2 separate regions of the Homo sapiens genome follow, and region 2 is linked to region 1. A link means that fine-mapping ties the variant in region 1 to the expression of a gene that starts in the linked region. Tissue or cell type: whole blood. Region 1 holds a variant in brackets; the other region holds the start of a gene. All regions are shown on one strand. Distances are between the middles of the regions.

What was found. PIP is the estimated chance that this variant, and not a neighbour inherited with it, causes the effect.
Region 2: it holds the start of ZNF213, and the variant in region 1 is fine-mapped to the expression of ZNF213 in whole blood (TOPMed, PIP 0.98).

What each region holds. Positions count from the first base shown.
Region 1 is chr16:3,162,324-3,165,004 of GRCh38, reverse strand. TRK-CTT8-1 (tRNA-Lys (anticodon CTT) 8-1) reads right to left here and starts at 67; the gene lies at 1-67. The variant G/TG (reference allele first, on the strand shown) is at 1,298.
Region 2 is chr16:3,133,611-3,136,291 of GRCh38, reverse strand. It overlaps ZNF213 (zinc finger protein 213), which reads right to left and starts at 1,263. Exons shown (of 6, transcript NM_004220.3): 1 at 905-1,263. It overlaps ZNF213-AS1 (ZNF213 antisense RNA 1), which reads left to right and starts at 1,410. Exons shown (of 6, transcript NR_110900.1): 1 at 1,410-1,662. RefSeq lists a silencer at 973-1,202 and enhancers at 1,313-1,502, 1,513-1,682.

The sequences.
Region 1 (2,681 bases):
ACATGGAGCTCGAGCCCACGACCCTGAGATTAAGAGTCTCATGCTTTGCCGACTGAGCTAGCCAGGCTGATGTAATAATACTTGCTTCCCACCCTAATACTCAGAATCCTCAAAACAGGCGCTGCAAAAACAAAAACAAAAACAAAAAAACAAAGGCTGTGGTGACTCTAGTCCCGAGGAGGTGGTGCAGGGATGGCTACCCGCGGAGCCGGCCTCTGGCATTCAGACAGCTGGGTGCACAGTCCCTGCCGGGGTCTCCGGACATCTGGGAGCCCCTATCCTCCCCTTCTCAGCGAGTTGTGTAACCTCAAACCCGAGCCTCCAGTCAGGTGGAATTTGTAGTCAGGGACCATTAGCCATGGGTGGTCCTGAGTGGGAGGCGGGGAGGAAAGGAACAACCTCTCTCTGGGGCCCAAGTGCGGATCCGAAGGGGCCTGGGTCCACGCTTCGCTGCCAATATAAATCCCAATTCCTACTTAATATTGAGCCCAGCCTCTGCATATCTCCAAACCGTTTCAAATGACCCAAAGAACCTGCCTCTTCCCACTCCCCTGCAGATCTGCATGCACGGTGGAGGCAAGCGGCTCATGACAGAGGTTTCTCCATGTTGGTCAGGCTGGTCTCGAACTGCCGACCTCAGAACTGCCGACCTCCGGTGATCCGCCCGCCTCCGCCTCCCAAAGTGCTGGGATTACCGGCGATCCCGGCTGCTGGTCTGCGCTGCTTCTGCATTAATGATCAGTGCGGGGTCAGGGGGCCAGCGGAGGCCGGGAAGGAGGGACTGAAGCGAAAGAGTAGAGCAGCGGGGTAGGGTCTGTCCTGAGTGTGTGCCTCACGAAATGGACCCTCTTGTCTTGGGACCCAGTTCTTCCTCGCCTCCCCTTCCCTTCCTTAGATCGGAACAGGAACTGCAGGGCGGCCTCTGTCAAGCACATCTGTGAGAAGAGACCACCAAACAGGCTTTGTGTAAGCAGTAAAACTTTTTTAATCACCTGGGTGCAGGCGGACTGAGTCCGAAAAAGGAGTCAGCGAAGGGAGATGGGGAAGGGGTTGCTTTGTAGGAGTTGGGTAGGTAATGGAAAATTACAGTAAAAGGTGGTTATCTATTGTTAGCAGAGGAGGGGGTCACAAGGTATGTGGTAGGGAGGTCATAAGATTTATTGTCCAAAAGAAGAATGTCACAAAGTCGATTGATCAGCCAAGGTAGGGCAGGGACAAGTCACAGTGGTAGAATGTTGTAATGTTGGTTAATCACTTAAGGCAGGAACCGGCTGTTATACTTCTTTGTGGTTTTTTT[G/TG]GCTTCTTCAGACTTCTTGGCTCCTGCAGGCCATCTGCACGTATATGTGCAGGTCACAGGGGTTATAATGGTTGAGCTTTAGGCTCAGAGGCCTGACACCTCGACCTGTGACCCAGGGCCCAGCAGCAGCCTCGCGGCCTGGCCGTCATCGGCCATCGGCCCAACTTCCTCTTTGTCCACAAGGGGAGCAGTCTCAGGAGTCCCTCCTGCTCCCAGCCAGGGAGTGTCATCGCAGACCTGGTCATTCTCAAAGCCTGGAAAATCCCAGCTTGAAAATGTCAATCAGGCCGGGCGCGCAGGCGCGGGGGCTCACGCCTGTAATCCCAGCACTTTGGGAGGCTGAGGCGGGTGGATCACCTGAGGTGAGGAGCTGGAGACCAGCCTGGCCAACATGATGAAACTCCGTCTCTACTAAAAATACAAAAAATTAGCCAGGCGTGGTGGCACCCGCCTGTAATCCCAGCTACTCGGGAGGCTGAGGCAGGAGAATCACTTGAACCCCAGAGGCGGAGGTTGTAGTGAGCCGAGATGGCACCACTGCACTCCAGCCTGGGCAACTCCGTCTCAAAAAAAAAACAAAACAACAACAACAACAACAACAAAACAATGTCAATCAACGGACAACGGACACTGATACCGGGGTTGGACTATCTGACGGGATGACAAAGGTGGTGAACCAGCCACCATAAACATGCTTCAGCTAAAACTCCTGCTTCATGCAAATGAAAAAATATGAAGTCTCAGGAAAGGAGTAGAAAATATAAAGAATAACTAAACGGAAAGTTTACACCCTAGAAATACAAAACCAAAGGAAGGAGCTTTAATGAATGGGCAACAGCAGAATGGAAGAAAAGAGGAGACTCCTCAAATTTGAAGACAGAACAATAGAAATTACCTGGAGAGACAATAAACTTAAAAAAAATAACAGAACCTCGGGTGTTTGTGGGACTTTAACAAAAGATCTAACATCACAGTTATTGGAGACCCAAGAGAAGAAAAATATGGCCTTTACAAACGAAAGCAGGCCAGATACAGTGGCTCACACCTGTAATCCCAGCACTTTAGGAGGACAAGGCAGGTGGATCACGAGGTCAGGAGTTCAAGACCAGCCTGGCCAAGATGGTGAAACCCCGTCTCTACTAAAAATACAAAAAAAAAAAAAAAAAGAAAAAAAATAGCTGGGCATGGTGGCAGGCGCCTGTAATCCCAGCTACTCAGGAAGCTGAGGTAGAGAATTGCTTGAACCCAGGAGGCAGAGGTTGCAGTGATCCGAGATCTCGCCTCTGCACTCCAGCCTGGGCGACAGAGCCAGACTCCATCTCAGAAAAAACAAACAAACAAAAAAACAAAAAAAAAAACCACACACACACAAAAACAGCTTAAG
Region 2 (2,681 bases), 29 kb after region 1:
GGTGTCACAGAAGGGCTTACAGACACCATCCAAAGCCATTTATCCACAGGTACATATAAATGTATGACACATTTATACCTTACATTGTTACTCTCTACTGAAAAGTGTATTATGCAATTTTCAGTAATCGATTTTTTGTTTCAACAATAAAAATACAAACTGGCCGGGCTTGGTGGCTTATGCCTGTAATCCCAGCATTTTGGGAGACAGACACAGGATGATTGCTTGAGGCCAGGGGTTCAAGACCCCTTTGGGAAGACAATGTGAGACGCCATCTGTACCAAAAAACAAAAAAAGCCAGGTGGGGCTCCTGTAGTCCCAGCTACTGGGGAGGCTGAGGAGGAAAGATTGCTTGAGTCCAGGAGTTTGAGGTTGCAATGAGCTATGATCGCACCACTGTACTCCAGCCTGGGCAACAGAGTGAGACCATCTCAAAAAAAAAAAAAAAAGAAAGAAAAGAAAAGTAAAAAGAAAATGAAAAAAATACAAACCATCTTAATAAAAAAGGGAAGATTCAAACAATATAGAAATCTGTAAAACTCTCCCTTCCTCAATACCATTGTACCCCCCGACTTAACAGTCTGACAAATGACGTCCCAGACCTTTTCCTGTGCTTTTACTAAAAAAGTCATCCATAGCGGGGAGAAAAGGTGCTTGATGTGTTTCTACATAAATGAGACCTTACTGCACAGACATTAGCGGCACTATGAGCTTCCGCGGTATGGATATGCTCTAGTTTCTTAATCAATACTCGAGTGATGCATTCGGGTTGTTTCCAATTCTTTAGTCCATCCTAAGCACTTTATTTATTCTGCTCCTCACAAGACCCCTGAAAGGTGCGCGCACCATTCTCATCCTCTGGTGACTTCGAAGAAGACTTTCCTCGAAGAGGGCCAGGACTCACCAGGGTCGCTCAGCAGGACACGGCAGGCGGGAAGGCGAGCCAGCCGGAGCCCCGCGCTGTCCACCGCAGCCTCGCCCGCGGGGCGAGCGGCGATCGTACAGGGGCGTCTGCCGGGGGACCAAGCTGGCAGAGCGGCGCGGGGGACCAGCACTTCCTAGCAGTGCGCGCGCCCTCCGGCCTCTGCCTCGGGGCGCTGATCCCGGCCACTCGGAGCCCGGTGCTTGATGTTGGAGCCAGGCGGCCAGAGGCCCCGTCCCCGCCCCGGCCCCCGCCCCCGCCCCCGCCCCCGAAACACACAACGCCCACTACGGCCCAGGAGATCCCACTTCCGCCGCGAGCTCCCGGCGCCGGAAGTCCTCGCGGGGCTCGCTGGGAAACTACGCTACGCAAGCATTCCCCAGCTCCCAGAAAGCCGTTCGTCCACTGAGCCCGCCTTCTCCATGACCGATGGCCAATGAACAGGAAGAATTCTCAGGCTGCCTATTAGAAGACAGAAACTCCATACGCGTCATACACCTGCACCCGGGAGGAAAGGCGAGGCTCTGCATCTAGATTTACCTCGTTCTCTTTTGTCTCCGCTTTTTTTTCACATTTCCTTGCGACCCTGGCCCTTGAGCGACAAAAAGGGGAAGCCAAGGCTGGCCCGAGGAACGGAGAGGGCACATGGCCTAGCCACAAGTGGAGCTTCTGCTCCGCCCGAAGGGATGCGCTGGAGCGGCCTCTTCCTTCTGCCACGGTCTTTCTTTGCCAACTAGTAGGTGAGGGCCGAAAGGCCGCGGGCCGTGGAGCTCGGGCCGGGGAGACTCTTTTCTAGCCTCTTGGGTCCCGCTCCTCCCAATTCCCTGGAGAGGCGTCGAGCTTGCTGGGAAGTGCCCTCGGGTAAGGGGCGCGGAGCCTCCTGCGGCGATCCTCTGTCTTCGGGTCGCCTTAGCAGGACGCGGCAAGCGGGACACTGACCTGGCCGGAGTCCCGCGTTCTCTCACCAGCTGCTTTGTCCACGAGTTGCTGCTGGGCGTCAGGGGTCCCACGGCCCGGAGGGATCTAGAGCAGGGGGGCTCGGGGTCCTTTCCATACCCTCGGATCCTCTCCCACTCTCTCCACGCCTCGACCCGGAGATGATTTCAGGCTCCAGATCTCTTTCATAAATGGAAAGAGTTTTTTTGGTTTGTTTTGTCTTAATTATGTAGGTGTTGCATGCTTGGAAGAGAAAATTTAGAAAATTAATTGGAAAACCATAAAGATAGCTTTCTCGTGATAGCCACAAGGCTTGCTCCCTCATTCTGCTCATATGTCACCCCCTCAAGGAGGCCTTCCCCAGCTCTGTAAACAACCTGTGCTCGGCGTTAACTTTTCTCCCTAATGTTTATCACTACCTGACATATACGTGTTTCCCACGACTCAACGATAAGTGTTCATGAGGGCAGACACTTTTTAATGCCCTATGACAAGCACCTAGAATTGTGCCTGGCACATGGTAGATGCTTAGTAAATATTTGTTTAATGAATGAAGGTAAAAAACATTTCTAATACGACCATCCAGGAATAAGTACTATTCATGTTTTAGTGTGTTCTTACAGTTTTACTGTTCAGACAGTTATATGCCTGTGAATATATATTATATATGTGTGTATATATATATATATATATATATATATATTTTTTTTTTTTTTTTGAGACAGAGTCTCGCTCTGTCACCCAGGCTGGACTGCAGTGGCGCGATCTTGGCTCACTGCAACCTCCGCCTCCTGGATTCAAGCGATTCTTCTGCCTCAGCCTC